2 separate regions of the Homo sapiens genome follow, and region 2 is linked to region 1. The links come from fine-mapping of genetic effects on gene expression. A gene starts in region 1. The other region holds a variant in brackets. All regions are shown on one strand. Distances are between the middles of the regions.

Region 1 (9,495 bases):
ACAATGATCAAATTTTGACAACAAGCAACAGCAATTACTGCTTAAGTGTTGCCTCTAGATAGGAGCGGCAGATAGCAGGAAACTGTATTATCTCCAAAACAAACTGCAAGCCCCCCACCCCCCCGAACGTCTGTAATCAAATCGCCATCTCCCCAAAGTCTGATTGGCAGGGCAGATCACCCTAAGATAATGAATTTATTACATTTCCTGGGTTATTTACAAAAGGGGGAGGGCCAATCCGGATTGTCCCCTAGGTTTAACTGTAAATTAACAAGAAAAAATGGTTTAAAAAGAAACCACCCTAGACCAAAATGTTCTGCTCCTCTCGCCTTCCTTCTTGTTATTGCTTTAAATCTTTTTCAAAAATAATTGTTCTACAAACATATTTTCTAAAATAGTTTCTCAAAGATTAAATATCCCTTTCCAACCCGCAGTATATTTTTAAAAAAGCAATCCTTCTATGTAATACATGAAGGATTGTAAATGGGGGAGAATTATATACATACATTTAAAAACTGGTTTATTTTTCCTTTTATAAAGGACTGAAATAATAGGAAAATATCTATTCAGCATCTGGCTCACAGGGATGTATAATATGCACTGCAATTTTATATGGAATACACAAGCCAAATATTTATCTGTGCATATCTGGCCGCACAGTCCCATCTCTCGGCACACAGGCATCACCGTGGTAAGACCGCGGCTGATTCATGGGCTTAAAATTTCCGAATCATGGACTGTCATTAGTGAGAAAACGTATTTGTTTATATGCCAACTCCAATCTGTTTAGAAAAATATCTTTTTACTAGCCTCAAAGCAAGCTGACTATATAGTACATTTTGCAGAAGATGCTGCAGGAAAATAAATCTAAACAAAAAGACTTTTAGTAAAATTTGACATGGACTAGTCAGAGGGTTTCTCCATTTTTCAGAGATTTAGGTGGAGAATAGGTAACTTCTAGTGTTTTATCTCTGAAATCTTTTTTCGTAATAATTAAAGCTCTATTAAAGTATCCAGACATATAGGTCTCATTCAAACTGAATGGTAATTTATTAATAAACAAACAATGAATATGTTCAACAAAAAGAAAGAAAAGAGGATAGAATAAGATTAATACAGTTTCCCTTTTTATAATGAGAAAAAAAGCACAATTTAAAGTTTCAGGCAATTTAACGTCAGGTTTTGGGAACACTTTCTGGCGTTTGGTCCACGACATCCAACTACAAATTAAAAATAAATTACTATGTTGCAATTTACATTTTAAAACAAGTCCATGAATAAAAAGAAAGCGACTTTCATAAACGGGGACTTTCCCCCTCCCTTCAACATAGGATAAAATAATATCTTACAGGTGAGAGGCAAGGAAGAAGGCAAGAGAGGGGAGACGGGAGGAGGGGAAAGCAGGTCTCTGAAAAGCAAGAAGAAACTTACGTGTTATCTGGAGTAACACTGTCCTTTAATAAACCAAGATTTTGCTGTCTCTGTATAAAACAGTTTACGGGTTTGTTTATTTAGACAAGGCAAAGTGGAGGTGGCTCTGAATTAATCGGTTAAGAAAATAGAGTTTTCTTCGTGCTGGTGCTGGTGAGCTGAATTTTTGGAGGGATATTCTGTTCGCTGGTGTGGTGAATATTCTCAGGGGTTTTTTTTAATTGGATTTTTTTTTTTTAGTTTCGATTTTGCCTTGATGGGTTCCTTTAGCTTTTCCTGCTTTGGGGTTCGATTTAGTTCGGCTTTGAGGGTGTGTCAAAACTTGCTACAGTCGTAGACGAAAGCTCCGGACGTGCGGTACAGAGACTGGCTGGAAGGGAAGGCCATTTGACAGCTACTATTCCCGTTCACTGGAGAGTTGTTCAAGCCGATCCTCTGTGACTCGAACATCTCCCGCACCGAGTGGAAGTTCTGCTGCTGGCCCGGGTAGCCTGCGGCCGCCGCCGCCGCCGCCGCGCTCGCCAAGTGGCCCAGGTCTCCGCCCGCCTGGTTCAGGTACCACGAGGTGAGGCGGCCTTGGTGGGCCGCAGGGTGGTGGCCGGCCTCCTGGCCTCCCCCGCCGCCGCCGCCGCCGCCGCCGTGACTCAGGGACGACGAGCTGCTGCTGGTGACCGGAGGCAGAGAGTAGTCGGGCAGGGGGTCGTCCACGGCCGAGCCGCCCGCGCCCCCGGGCGCGCCCTGCAAGTGGCCCCCGCGCTCGCCGGCCGCGTACAGGCTCATGGCTTGCAGGTTGCAGTGGTAGGTCCCGGCGCCGCCCGCGCCCCCCGCGGCCCCCGCGCCGCCGCCGCCGCCGCCCGAGCTGCCCGCGCTGGAGGTCTGGCTGCAGGGGGAGCTGTAGAGGGAGCTCTGGCCGGGCGAGTAGGCGCCGAGCGCCAGCGGGGGTGCGATCCCCGCGCGCGAGGACGCGGCCGCCGAGGCCAGAAGGCCGGAGCTGAGCTCCGCGGCCGCGCTCTGCGGCGACCCCCGCAGCGACGTCATGATGTTGTCCACGCTGAAGCCCTGGCTATGGTGCGGCGGCGGGGCGGAGGGCGCGGGCGGCGGCGGCGCGGAATCCGCACCGTCCAGGCTGAGCGGCCGCGCCGACGGCAGGCTGCCCGGGGGGCTGCTCCCGCTGGACAGGCTGCTGCTGCTGCTGTCGGGGCTCTCGATCTTGGGCACCGCGGCGGCGCTGCCGCTGCCCAGGGCGGCGGCCGGGGACAGGGGCTGGGGCGGCGAGGGGCACGTACCGTTCTCGGTCTTGATGTCCTGGATGCGCACGGGCGGCGGCTGCGGACCGGGCGCGTTGCCGTCGGCCTGCTCCGGCGGCGCGGGCGGGGGCTGGCGGCCGGGCGGGGGCGGCTCCTTGAGGTGCAGCCTGTCCTTCTCCTCCTTGTCCTTCACCGCGTCCTTCTTCTTGAAGCGCCGCCGCCGCCGCAGGAAGCTGCCGTTCTCGAACATGTTGTAGGAGTCCGGGTCCAGCGTCCAGTAGCTGCCCTTGCCCGGCTTCTTGTCGTCGCGCGGCACCTTGACGAAGCACTCGTTGAGCGAGAGGTTGTGGCGGATGCTGTTCTGCCAGCCCTGCTTGTTGTCCCGGTAGAAGGGGAAGCGGTCCATGATGAACTGGTAGATGCCGTTCAGGGTGATCTTCTTGTCCGGGGCGTTCTGGATGGCCATGGTGATGAGCGCGATGTAGCTATAGGGCGGCTTCACCATGTCCTTGGGCTGCGGCTGCGGCGTGTAGGGCCCGTAGGCGCGGGCCATGCCGCCCGGGTACTGCTCGGCGTGCGCAGGGTGCGAGTACACGCTCATGGGGGCCGGCATGGCGGTGTAGCCGCCCCCGGCCGCCGCGGCCGCCGCGCGGTAGTAGCTCTGCTCGCCGCCGAGGTAGGGCACCACTCCCAGGGAGTTGGGGCTGGACACGGAGTAGCGCGCCTGCATGGCCCCCGCTCGCCGCCGCCCCGCGCCGCCCGCCGCCCCCCACCCTCGCTCGGGCCGGGCCGCGCCGCGCCGGCCGCCGAGTCCGAGTCCGGGCCCGGCCGAGCTGGTGCCGGCCCGCTGCGCTGTGCGTCCGGCTGCGCTGCCGCCTCTCCCGGCGCTCGCTGGGGCTGGCTCCTCCGGCGCCTCGGGCTACCTCGGGGCCCGCGCGGCCGCGAGGCGGGGTCGCTGCGAGGGGAGAAGGCCGGGCCCGGCCGCGGCAGACCGCCTTGCAGGAACTCGCGGCGCAGCTTCCAGGCGCAAACGGGGGAAAGCAGACAAAAAGAAAGAACAAGCAGGCGCCCTTCTCGCCACACTGCCTGCGCCTTCCAGGAGACTCTGCCCTGAGCTGCCGGCGAAGGCGGCCAAATAACCAGGGCGGGGGGGGGGGGGGCCGCGCGCCGGCCGCCTGCCCGGGCCCCGCGTCACCTTTTCTCGGTCTCTCGCGCGCCAGCCGCTTAAGGAAGCATTGGGAAAACTTCTGAACTTTTGAGCATCCGTCACCCAGGCGAGGACTTTTTTACGCAGTTACACTTTTTTCCGGGCAGCGGAGCCCCGCCCCGCCAGCGGCGGCAGCCAATGGGAGGTGAGAACCGCCTCCGAATGAGCCGGAGGCCGAGCCCTGCCGGCCCGCTCCCGGAGGCCGGAGGACCGCGGGGCTGACCACACGCGCGCCGGCCGCCCTGGCCCGGGCCCCGGCCCTGCGCCCGCGCCGGCGCCCGGCCCGCCGTCGGTTCGCCCCCCGCAGTCCACCTGCCTGCCGCCGGCGCCCGGCAGACCTCCCACCCCGGGCCCTCCGGACCCACGCCCGCCGTTCGCGCAGACTTCCTGGGTCCTCCCGGGACCCCGTGCAGACCCTTCCTTCGCCCACGGCTCCCGAGTGGCCCTGGCGTCTCCGCCCCGCCTCGTGCTGGCTCGCTCTCATTCCTTCGCCAGCCCCGCCGACGCCAGCGCTGGGGTTGCCCCAGCCTCTCCTCCCCGCCGCCTCTCCCCTCCCGCAGCCCCTTCCCTCCCTTCTCCAACGCCAGTCTCACTCGGGTCACTGACGTCTCCGGCTTTTCTCCACTTGGAGGTTCTCCTGTCCTGAACTCGGCTACAAAGGACATGATTTTGAGGGCTCGGTCACAGCCAGGCCCTGCTCGCGGTGGGGAAGAAGGTTCGTCGCCCATCTGGCCCCCCTCCATGACCCCTCCCCAGCCGAAATGAAGGCAAGGGGTGCGGGGCCCTGCTGGGAGTTTCCGACGGCCGTTCACCCGCGAAGGATGAGCCCGCCCCGCTGCGGGCCGCCCTGCTTCTCGCCCCCCTCCCCGGGGGGCCGGCCCTTGGCGGCCTGAGGGTGCGGGCGGCGAGGGCTGCCGGAGCCCGGCTGCTGCCCCGCGCTCCCCTGCCCGCCCGCGAGGGTCCCACCGGCTCGCCGCGCCGCCGCCCCCTCTGATCCCGTCAGGCCCGTTTCGGCTCAGATGAGGGGTCAGGCTGCGGGCTCGGTGACATTAGCAGGTGTGATGACAAGAAGCAAATAAATATGTCTAAGAGCTTAACGCTTCCCCAGGCCAGTCTCCATCTCCACATGCGCGGGGCTGCCGGCTCGCAGAGACAACGGGTGTGTCTGGGGGAACGTCCAGGGTCGCACCTAGAGGGCGGTTCAAGGATTCTGGGGGGACACGCACGGAAGGGCCCCCGCTCGTTGTGCACACGCCTGAGATTCGCCGTCGCTGGGTGGTTGGAATGGGACAGGAAGAAGAGAAATGAGGGAAAGAAACGAAGGAGCGGGAAAGAGCCAGGCCTCCCTCCCCCGGCACGGCGATTCTGCATTTTAGCGACTTGAGGAGAGACCCTCCCGGAGGCTGAATCCCAAGTCGTTCACTAGAAGCTGGGGGAAGTGGCGAGCTCAGGAGACTGCGAAGAAGCGTGCGTGACGCATTTAACAGCTCCGCTGCCCCTGATTTCCGACCATCTATTAAATCCAAGGACATGTTCGGGACCCCTTTTGTCTCCCCGGTTCGAATCCCGGCTTCCTCACGTTGGCAGGAAAATTCAAATTGCAGCTTCGGCTGTTACATGTGAAGGACGCTGACGTGTAGCAGGCGCATCTCCGTGTCACCTGAATATTTAAAAATTACTGTTTCATAATGGACATTGACATCGAAGGAAAGAGGACCTGCCTCTTCTAGAATTAGCCTTTGGAGGAGGGAGGGTTGCCCCGAGGTTGCTCTGAATCCCGGGGCAGCTGCCTCCTGGCCTGCTGTGCGCCGGGGTCTCTGGAGACTCCTTTTCCAGGTGGTTTGCGGGCCAAGTCACTGGTGGGTTGGAGAAGCACCAACAGGAGGCTCAGCACTTGCTGGTTGCCAAGGACACTAGACAGGGGCGAGGGTGGTGGTGAAGCCCCAGGACCTGAACACTTAATTCCTGTTCAGCCCCCAGCCCGGCACCCTGAAGGTCTTATCAGCCCGCCTGGTCGAGGCTTTAAGGAGTGCTGTGGCTTCAGCCTGGAGGAGATTTAAGTGGTCTCCCTGAACACCTCAGCAAGTGGTGAGTTCGGTCTTGAAGCTGCCTTTTACACTGCTAGCGGTGCGCGGAGATGAACGCAGCGATTACGGATGCTTTGTTTTCCGAATGCGGGAAACGCCTTCGGCCCCGAGTTTTGCAACAGGCAATGGTGCCCCGCTGCCCCCTCCCCCACCAGCCTGTCGCCTCCTGCTCTTCCCTGCCTCCTCCCTCCATCGGCCCAGTGAAGTGTAAACAGCTTGTTATGTAAATTGCAAATCGACCTGCAGCGGTGTTCTCAGCTCTCCGTTTTGGGTATAAAAGTCGCCGTTGTGAAATTAGTGTCTGGCGTGCGAGAAAAAATGGAGGGACGTAGTTTTATCAAGATCAACTTTCCACTGGTTTAGCTCTGGATATTCGCCAGGAAAAGATATTTGCATTTGTGTTTTATAAACTTACTCGGAAGCAAGCCTCCAGTAAGCGGCTTGATTGTATTTCAAGCACTTTTCTTATTTCATTTTTGTTGTTAGTGGTGTTATTTGAACATTAAGACGCAGGCATGAAGTCTTTTGGGGAACAGGTTAAAGCTTTTATTTTCAGGTTACAGTTTTTGATGCCCCTTTCTGCTACTCCACGGGGTACTTCAATCATCCGCTTCCGCACATCTCTTGACTCATTTGGCAGAAGAGCCCCCACGGGAACCCTTCGGCTTCTTTTCTGACACCTCACGTACTTGCAGCCTGAAGGCCCCGCAGGCGACAGCGGTAATGGATGTTTGGTGGAACCCTCCCTGGGCCCACACTCCGCCCCTCCCCAGCAGGCCGGGCAACAATTCCCAGGGCCCACCGAGGGGTGCTTAGCTCGGAGGAGGGGGAGTGACGTCACAGCGATGTTCAAAACAAGGCCTCCCCTGGCCCCACCATAGAAAAGCACCAGGAAGGGGAATGTGGCGAGCACTCCAGGAAATGCTCGGATTGGGGACCAGGTGACACTGTAGGAATGTGTGTGCTGGGGGATGGGATGGTGTCCTAAATATGGGTCACCAGGAGCCAGAAGGAGCTCTCTTTTTTCTTTTTCTTTTTCAAGTAAAGCAGAGGAGGTGGAGATTGGGATGGGGGCAGTCCGGAAAAATCACTCCCTAGGGGTGTGAGCTTAGCTCGTGTTGTGCGGATTGTCCCCGTCACAGCCCAATCACCTCTGTGGTGTGCCTAGACGCCCTCTCCCTTACCTCCCCGCTTTCTGGCTTCTCCATCCTCTGGGCTCTGGGTTCAGCCCTGAAAGCCGAACTGTGGGCTGCAGTGGGGAGGCGAGGGCAGGTAGAAACCAGCTTCAGGGGGGGCTCCACCTGGCCCAGGAGCTGGGGGACAACAGAAAAGGCAGGCTTAGGGCATGAGGGAAGGCGCTTCTCCTGCTGCACTGGGGCAGTGATTCCTGGGGGCTCTGCACACACAGGAGGGAGGCTGCAAGTCCACAGCTGCTTTAGCATCTTTCCCTTTGCTGGGGCAGACAGAGTGGAAGATTAAGGCAATTAACCCCAGAGGGCCACTAGAAAACTGTCCACTAGGCTGCCATCACAGACCACTGGAGCAAGGTCCGCTTGGGGATGTCTTTGAGCTTTTTAGATTACTTAGATAATTGTCTTAGTTCTCCATTCGGCCTCCTTTGCTTAGACCAGAATCCCAGGGGTAGGGGAGGATATCCTTGCATCAATGCCCGGCATTCGTTTTCAAACCACCAGGCCGGCAGGCAACGTTAGTCATCGGTGCGACTTTTCAGCGGAGGAAGGAGTGGGGACCGAACATCTGGGTGGCCGCGACCTTGGGCAGATACTCCTTAGCTGGGGGATTTTCAAGTAGAGGATTTGTCAGCACAGTCCCTCCAATTCAGCCCCGTCCTTAGTAGAAAAATTTCTACAATAAACGAAAAGAGCGTTTGGTTTTCGATTGTTTTAAAGACAAAGTGATCCATATTGCCTGTCTACATGGTTGGATTAATCCGATAGTTGCCCTCCTGGGGGCAGACCTCCACGGGAAGTTTGTGTGATGGGATAATTTAATGTCATCTAAGTCCCCTGGAGGGGCGGTTCCCCTAACTACTCACCCAGGAGAAAGCCAGCCAACACCTACCTGATCGTTCCCGCCTCGGGATGGCCCACCTATCGCCCCTTGGCAGGAAAGCCCCCGCCTCGAAGGGCGTTTCGGGGGCTCAGAGCCGAGCTAAGCTGCAAGAGGGGGCCATGGGGAATGCGGGAAGTGAATCTTTAACTTTGGTGCCCGGCTTCAAAAGACTCAGGGCTTCTTGTGTTCAGGCAGAGGTAAATGGAGATTCAAACTGTCGTCTTGCATTAACAATCCGGAATAAAAATAAAATTCGTAAAGGGATAGATGATCGGAAAGAACAAATGGTGCATGTGTGCGCGAACGAGCCCCAGTTTCTCTCCATCCAGGTCCCCAGCGGACTCAGAGCGGCCGCCGCACTCCACGGCCTGGGAGGACAGAGGCCCCGCAGCCTCCCAACCTCGGCTCATGTGGGGGGCGCGCCGCGCAGGGTGGGCGAGTCCCCAGGCCCCAGAGTCTGCCGGAGCCAGGGTGCGCGGTGCGGCGGGAGCCGGCCGTCGGAGGACTGCAGGGCGAAAGCGCCTTCCTGGGGCTGGAGCAGAAGGCGTGTGCCCCTGCACGGACGCGCCTTGGCTGTGGGTGTGGGAAGAAAGGCTTTGCCCCGTGAGACAGACCCACAGACAGCCCCGGAGCCGCCGGCGGGGTGAGGTGGGCTGCAACCTTGCAGGTGGCTGGCTGTTCCCAGGTCTCCGGCCCGGCGCCGCAGCGGACCCAGGCGCCGGGGCCGCAGCCAGCCTTCCTTCCGAGTGCTCCCTTCGCGGAACCCTGCGCCCTGGGACCTTCCTTCCGACGTCCCTCACCCCGGCCGGGGAGTGGCACCAACGCGGACGCACCGCCGGGCCTCCTGCGGGTAAGGCGCGGTCGGCCCCCAGCTCTGAGCCTTCTGGGCAGGAGCCCCGGGGGCCTGGGCCGGGGCCGGTGTTTGCACCTCTCAGGACAGGGACAAGGCCGACACCCGGCTCGGTGCAGCCGGCCTCCCCCGAGGACCTGAGGGCCGACGCCTCCGGGAACCGCTGGTCCTCGCGAGTGGGTCGGCGCCTGGCAGCGCGCGCCGGTGACCTGGTGGTCCGTCTGCTCCCAGGCCGCCCCTCACAGGCTTCCCGCCGCTTCCCCGCGAGCGTCAGCAGAAAAAGGGACGATGTGGAAGCCCGGAGGCCCCTTGGCCGACCCAGGCTGGGGCTCTCAGGCTGGGGGCACCTCACCCCGGCAGGTCCCGCGCCTCGGGAACCCGGGGCCAGGCAGCCGTCCTGGGCGCCCGCACCGCGCACTGCGCGTGCTACGAGCGCCCCCTGCCGTCGGAGGCGTTGTCTCCGCGGCGCCTCTGCCCGCGCCGGGCTCCAAGGGCCGGCTCCGCCTGTCCCCGCACAGCGTCCCCTGGGAACCGGGTCTCCAGAGAAGGAGGCCTGGGGAAGACCGCGCCGCCCGCGTGGGACCCCGCAGGGCCTGGCAC
Region 2 (9,495 bases), 100 kb before region 1:
ACCACTAGGGCATGATGCCTCCGGCATCCACAGCATATGCACATTGTGGGAAAATCTCATAGTATCTTGAAGTCTTGGCAGACAGCATCAACAATAATGCATATGCAAAAGGCATCCAAGGTTGCTTCTGTCTGAAGAGAGTACGACTGCCAACTGGAGGCATTGCCGGCTCTGAGCCTCCATAAGAAATGCCCCATTGTCAGCCACCATCTTTCCTTTACCCACTCTGAGGCTATATTTGTGGAACAAAGTGTCACCTAGCATAAAAGACACTCAGTTCTCTGGCTTTCCCCATGACACGCGTTTCTCTGCTACTCTGAAACTTTCTGAATTACAAAGTGAGAAATAAGTTCTACTCAGTGAATGGCCATCATGGCTGGTATTGGTATCGTGGAACCAAGGTCTTCCGGAAACCTGGTGGCATGATATTCCTTTTTCTCTTCACCTAGAATCTTCAATGTTTTTCTTTTTTTTTTTTAATGTAAGTGCAAAGAACTTAAATATATGATTGTGTAAGATGATAGTCATTTAGAACAACATTTTTTAAATTTCTGAAAAAGTGAGGCCGGGCACAGTGGCTCACGCCTGTAATCCCAGCACTTTAGGAGGCCAAGGCAGGTGGATCACGAGGTCAGGAGATCGAGACCATCCTGACTAACAAAGTGAAATCCCGTCTGTACTAAAAATACAAAAAAATTAGCTGGGCGTGGTGGTGGGCGCCTGTAGTCCCAGCTACTTGGGAGGCTGAGGCGGGAGAATGGCGTGAATCCAGGAGGCGGAGCTTGCAGTGAGCCAAGATCATGCCACTGCACTCCAGCCTGGGCGACAGAGTGAGACTCCCTCTCAAAAAAAGTCTGAAAAAGTGTTGGGCTTATAGAGATTTTCCTAATAAGGTGTACAGTGTCTTCTTCTTTGCACATCCATTTTGGTGGAAAATTCAGTCAAATGCACTAGAATAGTCTTTGGATATGTTTTCTAAAACAAGTATCTAATTCCCACATGAAGAGAAATGGCCTGATTGAGTATGCCTGTCTTACCAAAACTGTTAACTTACAGTGAGGATGTGAAAAAATAAGAACTCAGATAGGCCCGTGGATCAGATGAATAAGAAAAAGAGAAGAGACTATGGATAAAAACAGTTGCTGATTTTCCTTTGAGATGTTTGTGCTTCATGCCGCCAAATTGAGATGAGAGAAAAGCCAATTTCATGCAGTTTGGCACAACTGTAAAATGCAGCACAAACACACGTACGTGTATGTGTGTGTGTGTGTGTGTCCCATTGATCCAAAAAGCCTGTTTGTCTATTGGCAAGACGAAATATTATCTTCATGCATCACCACCTCCTCCTAAAGGTAGGATGGGGATGGCCGTCAGTGCCAATACATTGTCTCTTCTTTCAGCTGGCGGGGGTGGGCAGTGGGAGGGAGCCACGGGGCGGAGACGCAGAGCAAACAGTGCCAGCACTGGATCCCGGCGTGGGCCGGTGGTGGGTGCCAGGAGCAGCCAGGGCCTGTGCCTAGTCGTCACATGTGGTGCTGAGCAACCACCAACTCTTCCCAGGAAGGAGGTGAAAAGATAACACACACTGGAGTCCAGTGGAGGCGAGGACACTTCATCCCACAGGGACCGCAGTGGCCAAGGGAATGGTTTTAATGGTGGTTTGACTTGGCATACTTATGAAAAGGCTAGCGCCCACCCGCTGGCCTGTGGGTTTATTTGGCAAAACATAAAACAGAGTCAGTTGCTTGTCCTTGAGAGTGGCCACTATGGATCTACCACATTTCTGACTTGTCAGTCTGACATCCGTGGCTGGATTCTACATAGTCTTGTGTTGATGGATTTGTTGCTTTGGGAGAAACGCAGATATGATGGCATGGCCTTCTCACTATCTGCAGCAGAAACGGCCTTGTGTCTGCCCCGTGTCCCTGGTCATCCACGGACATTGGTCAGGCTTTCTGATTCACACCACTTTCTCCTCAGCCCTCCAACTAAGTAATATTTATATTGTTCTGCTAACAACCTCTATTGAAATCCAAACTTAATAACCTATTGCTTGCTAGAAATATTCTCCTCTTCCTTTCTGCCTGTTTCATGATCTTGGTTTTTTTTTTAAAGAATTCAACCCTTTTGCTTTTTCCCTTTCTCCATCTTTATAACTTTTTCAGACAATTGAACTTCTGTCTGAACTTCTGAGCTTTCCGATACCCTCATACTTTGTGGTCAGCATCAGAGACATCAAAGTAAAGTGGGTATTTGTTTCAAACCCTGAGTTGATGATAAGCCATTATGTCTGCTGCGTCTTCTCTCCATGTGAGTGACATTTTGCACCCCAGGCTTAGTTATAGGGAGCAAGTTAGGAATGTGTGTTTTGCAGTTTCTGTTGTTTATGTAAACCATCGATATCAGTTTATTCATCTGAAGGAAATAAGAAAAAACACTTCAGTCAAAATAATTAGGAGCTAAGATAAGAACACAGCACTTCAAAGTTCATTTAGCTACTTACATCTTCTACTTTACACGTCATCTCAGCTTCCCTATCTCCTAAGTGAAGGATGATTATGATAAACTTCACAAAAGTAGTGGGAGGTTAAATTAGTGTTTGTGAAGCATGTTGAGATCTTATGATCAAAGATACCGGAGTATTGCAGAATAGTGTGATTACTATCAAAGAAAAGAATTCCTCAAACCAAGAGTCTGGATTAATCTGACTTAATTTTCCAGCATCTTCTGTATCTGACTGAATTTTCCAGCATCTTCTATACCTTCTATATCTGAAGCCCCAAACCTCCAATCTCTTGCAGTTTTCTCGTGATCTTAGAGTCCGTTTCTAAGCATTGAAGAGGGTTAGAGAGTAGGCTGCAGTCATAAACTTGTAAACAGAGGAGAAGTGTTGGGTGTTAATGAAGGCTCAGGCGAGGGGCCGGATGGGGCTTTGGGGGGCATGTTCGGCTGGTGACTGTGCAGTGCTGCTCTCAGCAGCCACCGTTTGGCTGGTGCTCGGGTGGGGCCTTCACTATGCCAGAAAAACTGTCCCTCCACCCAGCTCATTCCTTAGAATCAACAGGGACTTTCATCCATGCTGCACAAAATCGGACGGAAAAGATGGCTTTCCACAAGTTTCCCAAGTCACTTAAGGGGCACGGAAGGGGTATGCAGGCAGCCGGGGTGTCAGAGGCAAAGACAGGCTGATAGCACAGAGATAAGCAAGGTGGATGGAAAACCATACCTAGACATAACGTGTGCAAAAATTGCAGAGTAGTATCTCCAAAATCACAGGCCACAAATACACAGATTTGGTGCAAACTGGCAAAATGAGTTTGTACATTTATTTCCCACCCATGTGTTTCATTTTGCCTGTAATCATCAGAGCTGTTGTGGATGGGTGGGTTACCCAAGTGTTCTTAAAGAGGCAACCCATTTCTTCTCAGGCAATACTACTACTTTAAGCAAAACCGCAGGCATCCTTTGTCAAGGGTGGCTACCCTAGTCCATGGTTCTTAAGCCTAGTACGTCAGACTCATCCAGAAAGCTGTTGAAAATACAGTCTTCCAGGATTCATCCTCAAACCACTTGAGCGGTGGACCCTGGAAACGTAGGACTCTGCAGGGATCCTGAGGCAGCCGGCTCTGAGGCTGGCCAAGCCTCGGTAAGTGGGGGCAGCTGTGCCCTGGGCTGCAGTCAGGGAATGATGCACACAGTTGGGTTGTCCCTAACCTTGTTGGTTTCATTCACCTCTTGAAGAATTAGATAAAAGCTGATTCCCCCCAGGGGAAAATGCTCAGAATACATCATGTATGTAGTTGTAGGGAATTGTGCCTGTCCAGCTGTCCATGCGGAGAAAACAAAGCTGAACTGCCAGGTCCGGCTCCTTTCTTCTCCAGCCCCAAGTTTTTGCTTGGCTTGGCACATCCTTTCATAGGTGTACGTATTTTGTAAATGTTCATGTCCAGTGATTAAAACTGTCATTGGTATAATTTCTGACGATATGTAGTCAACCCCTTCACAAGTCTGTCGTTAAGCCCTCCACAAACTCACAGGGGTGCTTTGGAAGAGCTTGACATCCGCCCTCCCCAATGGAACATAAGAGCCATTCACACCCCCGCCCTGCAAGGGAGGGTGTGCTTAGGACCTGGACATTGAGCTTGGCAGTATCACCAGATCATTTACCGATTGAAGTTAAATTGATGATAGAAATGTAGACGTCAAGATTTTTGTGCCTAGGTAGTCTCAGCTTCCCTGACCCCATCCTCGGAGAGCTCCAGGTCTAGGGGGACCATTCCCAAGGGGAACCTCAAAAGTGTATCTGCCATGTCAGGGCAGACGTGTGTTTTGGTTGTTTTTGGTGAAGCCCCAGAGGGCATTGTCCCTACACAGTTCTCTGATAGGCGGAAGCTCCATCAGGTCTGACCACAGCCTGGTTATACCACGGCAGGTCCAGAGCAGGTGGCTGCTCAGGGTTTAGGGACTGAATGAATGCCGCAGACGTGGAAAAGAAAATCAACTAGCTGTTTTAGGCATCTGATCAATCAGTGTGATTGGTTTCTTTACCAAGTTGATGAGTAGATCTGCTGTGTTCTCAGCAGTAATGTGGTTAAGCTTCTCAGGAATATACACATACACAAATGTTTTCCCCGGTCTGGTGGAGGGTAGTAATAAAAAGCAGAGCATTTAGAGACAAAGTCAACTTGACAGGCAGAGTGGAGGTAAACAGTCTTCCTCTGCAGGAGCAGTGTTGACAAGCAGTGATTCTTGGGAAGCGTACAGCTGTAGCACGGGCTCTGACTTCAGGGACTTCAGCAGTATAAAAACAATTTTTAAATACCCAAAGTCATTTATTTTAAGTGTACTTGTATGGTTTGGGGTTTTATGTTATCGGTTTATATATATGTGTGATTTTTATTAACTATTTCCAGAAATAATTCTGCAGTTAAGCCAAAAGCTGCTGCATGAAGCAAAAACTCTTCCTCCATAGATACCCTGCCTCAGTCGAGTTAGGCAGGTTTAGCCCAACCAAAGGACTGTATTTGTTGAGAGAAGAGACATTTGTTTTCTCCCCAAACTTCAAGCTCTGGTTTTGAAACATAACTCTCAGTCCCATCTCTAAATCCTAGTTACAGCATTAATTCTCAATAAGTTCTTCTTTTTGCACGTACTCTCATGTAAGCAGCAGTCTAAATAGCCATGTAAGGGCAGCCAGAGGAGTGGGTTTGTGCCTTGGGGAACAGAGGAGCCAAGGCCCACCCACGTTACTTGTCCACTTCTCCTTCCATCTGTGACAATCAGCTCCAAGCATTAAGGGCTTCTCCTGGTCCTGGGGGCCAGGCAACACGTCACCTCTGAGATGTTGGCCTTTGCCACCGTGGCTTCTCCAGCACAGAGCCTCATTGTCACTTCCTCCAGCTGCTCAGGGA[A/G]CATGATCTTCACTGTTGTCATGTCAGATGAGGAAATTGGGCCACCAGGAAGCCGAGTGACTTGCCCAAGGTCACGCTGTGTGCTAGTGGCACAGCCAGTTTCCAGGCCGTGCTCCCCCACGAAGCCTCTGCAACTTTCCTCCCAGATCACGTGCACTGGGTCACCCAAAAACTTTGCCCTTCTGCACATTAGCCTCTAAGGACAGCTGCTCTAAGCACTTTCTAGCCAGGCCCCTCAGCAGCAGCACTACAAGGGTGGCTGGCACTCTGGTTCTGTAGACACTGTCTCCTGCCTTTTCTCAGTGCTGCAGTGGGTGTATCTGCACCTACTTAATGGTCTGAATCTATAAACCAGCAGTCAGACACCTGCTGTGCATTCAGGGGACATAACCTGTCATGCCTACCTGTGGAGCTGAGTCAGTGTACACGGTTCTCGGCAATCAGGGGACATCAGACAGCTGCACCCTCTTTTCCAGTGACACAGGCACCAGGTATGAAGGCTTTGAGGGATTTTCTGGAAGTAGGAAGGGTCAGGGCCCAACTGAACATGTCACCACAGCACCTGACAATGGCTTTTTGTCCTTTTAGTGTATGACTGGACACACTTACTTACCATGTAAAGGTGCTTCTTTTTTACATTTAAAACCCAAAGCTGTGAGATGCAGCGTACAGAGACGTGACCCCGGTTGGCCTTTTGCTGTTTCAGATGGCAGTACTCAGAGGAACGCCAGCCAGGCCCAGAGGCCCCCGGCGCTCACTGGCCTTTCTTTCATGTGCCCTTGGAGTTCTTAGAATAGACTATGAGATTTTAATTCAAAAGGAATATTCTACCAGCAGTTTATAATAGGCATGGTTTGAGGAAAACCCAAACCTGCTTTTCCCAAGATCTAAACCATTTGATGCACCAGTTATCTGATGCAGTGGGGCTCTCGCCCGATCCATTCTTTGGAGCTACACCATACTCGATTGTGCGGTGACTGACTTAGCCCCGGGCAGTTCAGACTTGGACCCACCGTGTGGCATGTTTGTCCTCGTTGCTGTTGCTGTATTGACAACGCCTTCAGAGGTGGTTTCGAGTGCAAGCCCCCTACCCGCCTTCCCTCCACTCCTCATCTGCCCTCCAGCTTCTCCAAACACGCTTCGCTGCCTGCTGGGAATGCTGCCTTGCAAAGGAGTGACGTCTCAAGTGTCGGGAAAGTTACAGCCTTCGAGTTGTTTCCTTCCCTACCTTTGAGATATACCCAGATGCCGCATTTTGTTTCACGCTTTTCTGTGGATGGTGAGCAAATGGCTGATTCTTTATGGCCCTCAGAGCCCCAGGAGGGTGTGGACAAGCACCTTTCCCACTTGATACTTCTGGATATTTCCTTTCTATGCCATTAAAATCGGATGAGTGCTGTATTTGTTTTTTGTTTATTTGTATTTCATTTATTTATACCTTACCTTACTCCAGAAAATGTTTAATAACGCATGTGAATAGTAAGGATGTAGCCTAGTTTGTGAAGTCTTTGGTGCAACAACAGATTTGGTACTTGAAAACCTTTTTCTCCCAGAAAGCGTGTTTTAAATGATACGAGGGCCCCAGCCCTGCCAACACAAGCCTATTTTCCCAATAACATGCCTGAAATACTAATGAAAATATTTTAACTGCGTCTAGTTACCATATGTAAAATTGCTTTCAGTGCAAGCGCACTTTCCAACGTCCAAATCTGGGTGCTACTCACATGTGTCTTTCAGAAGAGTGGGTGAGTGGCAGAGCTCCTCCCAGGCCTGTGTGTGGTGGGCCATGCCAGGCTGCCTGGGAGGAGGAAGGTGGGGAGCTCCTCCCAGGCCTGTGTGTGGTGGGCCATGCCAGGCTGCCTGGGAGGAGGAAGGTGGGGAGCTCCTCCCAGGCCTGTGTGTGGTGGGCCATGCCAGGCTGCCTGGGAGGAGGAAGGTGGGGAGCCCACCTCCATCTGGTTGCTCACCCTGGACAACGCCATGGAGGAGAGGGCTCTGGAGCAGGGCCTTTGAGAGAGTGTCCTATGATTACTTCTCTCAACTGTGTGGCTGTTCAGTCTGTCACTGAAGCCTTTCCTCCCCTCTTCTGTGAGACCAAGAAGTATTTCTGAGCAATACATAGATAGATGGATCAACAGATAGATATTTTTAAAAATCAGAATATTTTCAGCTCACATTTTGACCTCAAAACCTTATGACTTGGTTTTGCTTCCTTAAAGTCACATTAAAAAGTATGGTTAGCAGAGACGTGGTTCTGGTGAGCACAATGGAGATGTAATTTTAATTCCTTCTATTCACAACCAACACTAATATTGAAATTTTGGGTAAGCAACATTTGAGAGGCACTGAAACTTGAGATTCACTTAACTGCTAAAATACTACTCTGTTATCCACAAACTACCAGTTATAAATGTTTCCGTGCCTGATTCAGTTGACAGCAAGAGACTTCGGAAGGCTATAAGTTAGGAACCAGTATGAGATGCCAAATGCTTCCTTGCCTTCCCGAAAATACTGCCATGAGAGTAGGCCTTTAAAGCAATTTCCTTCAGGTTTAGAGATCTGTTCGACAGCATAGTGTCCAACCATAGGGGATAACTGAGCACAGTCCTTCCAAATGCCACCATGCAGCAAATCCATTAAAGTCCGTGTCCATTCAGACTATGGAGTAGTAGCTCAGGGAAGTGTCTGGGATAAAATGATGGGTGAAAAAAGAAGCATAAAAATGCGCAAACAGTATGATCACAACCATATAAGGAAACCTACACACAGGTGAGCAAACGCTGGGAATCAGCCACGTGCTGCGGACGCCTCGTGCTCCCAGCCTCGTTCCAGCAAAACTGTTAACAGCAGTGTTGTGTTCATGATGGGCCTGCGAGGGGTTCTCCTCCGCTGGTTTGTGTTTTCCAAATGTTCATTAGCGAACATGTGTGACTTTACAACAAAAAGAAAACAGTGGTGAAGTATGTTAGTCAGACTTCAGCATCGTTCTCATCAGTTAGAATAAAGAAACGCATGAGGAAAGAGACAAGTATTTTTCACAGGCCTCAGGTTAGAACACATGGGCAGAACAGCATGGACACTTCCCTTGACTCCCCTGTTTGCCTTGCTGCCCCCACCTCTGATCAGTCACTAAGCCTGTGCTGCTGCCTCTGGAGTGCCTGCCTTTGTGGCTTACTTCTTGTATTCCTGCCTCAGCACCTGCCCACCACCTCCCCTCAGAATCATCAGCTGTGCCGCGATGGTGCCAGCACACCGCACACATCTGATCATACACAATATATACATCTGATTAATATACAAAACCATAACAACCCTTGAGAATCGAAATGAATGAAAATCTGTTCACTTCATTCATTGCCCCAACAATTTGAGGCCTGCCCGCTATAGTACCAATCATTCTATTTCCTCCCATATTAGTTCCAACTTCCAGGCACCTTATCAACAACCGGTTAATTGCTATTCCACAATGACGAATTCAACTCACCCTAAAACTTCTTCAGGGCTTAATGCCCCCCAGATGCACCTGTTCTTGCAAGGGCCTTCCTGCTGCGCCGCCACCCTTCTCATTGCTGTGTGGGTCTAGCCCCAGATTGCTGGGTGCCCAGCCGCCTGCCAGGACTGCAACTTGATGGTCATTCCTGCCCTCCCCAGTTCCCAAACTCTCCTGAAGCTACCTCTCCTCCTCCCTCAGGTCTCAGGTTTACTGGAACTTCCTCTGGAAAGTCCTCCAGCTTCCCAGGAGTGAGCTAGACGTTCTCTCTTCTGTTGCCATGGACACCCACACTTACAGCCCCACACCATGCGCAGTCCATTATCCGTGATTCCAAAATCCAAAGAGCTCAGGGAAAATCAAAACTTCCCTTAAAACCCATTCTCCTACAAAATCTGGCCCAACCTGACACAAGACTAATTATGTAGTCTGTCTTCTTATCACTTACTGTAACTGTTCATACATTTTGCTGAAGGAATATTCACGTTTGATTATGGTGTGCTGGCCAGATGGTGCTGGGGCTGCTCAGAAAGATGGGATTAGGGTAACTACAAACTTACCACCTGCCTATCGAGAGTACAAGGGGCAGGGGAC

Evidence for each region.
Region 2: its variant is fine-mapped to the expression of FOXC1 in whole blood (GTEx, PIP above 0.99).

The regions. Positions count from the first base shown.
Region 1 is chr6:1,604,359-1,613,853 of GRCh38, reverse strand. FOXC1 (forkhead box C1) reads right to left here and starts at 3,939. Exons shown (of 1, transcript NM_001453.3): 1 at 1-3,939. The coding sequence starts at 3,408. The coding sequence ends at 1,747. FOXCUT (FOXC1 upstream transcript) reads right to left here and starts at 8,323. Exons shown (of 2, transcript NR_125804.1): 1 at 8,055-8,323; 2 at 6,496-7,838. RefSeq lists enhancers at 1-227, 3,082-3,181, 5,895-6,404, 6,762-7,262, 7,263-7,763 and silencers at 3,512-4,131, 9,065-9,134, 9,185-9,495.
Region 2 is chr6:1,705,386-1,714,880 of GRCh38, reverse strand. The region is part of intron 9 of GMDS (GDP-mannose 4,6-dehydratase); the gene reads left to right. Among named protein-coding and RNA genes, the nearest start is that of FOXC1, 100 kb to the right of the region's middle. The variant A/G (reference allele first, on the strand shown) is at 5,412.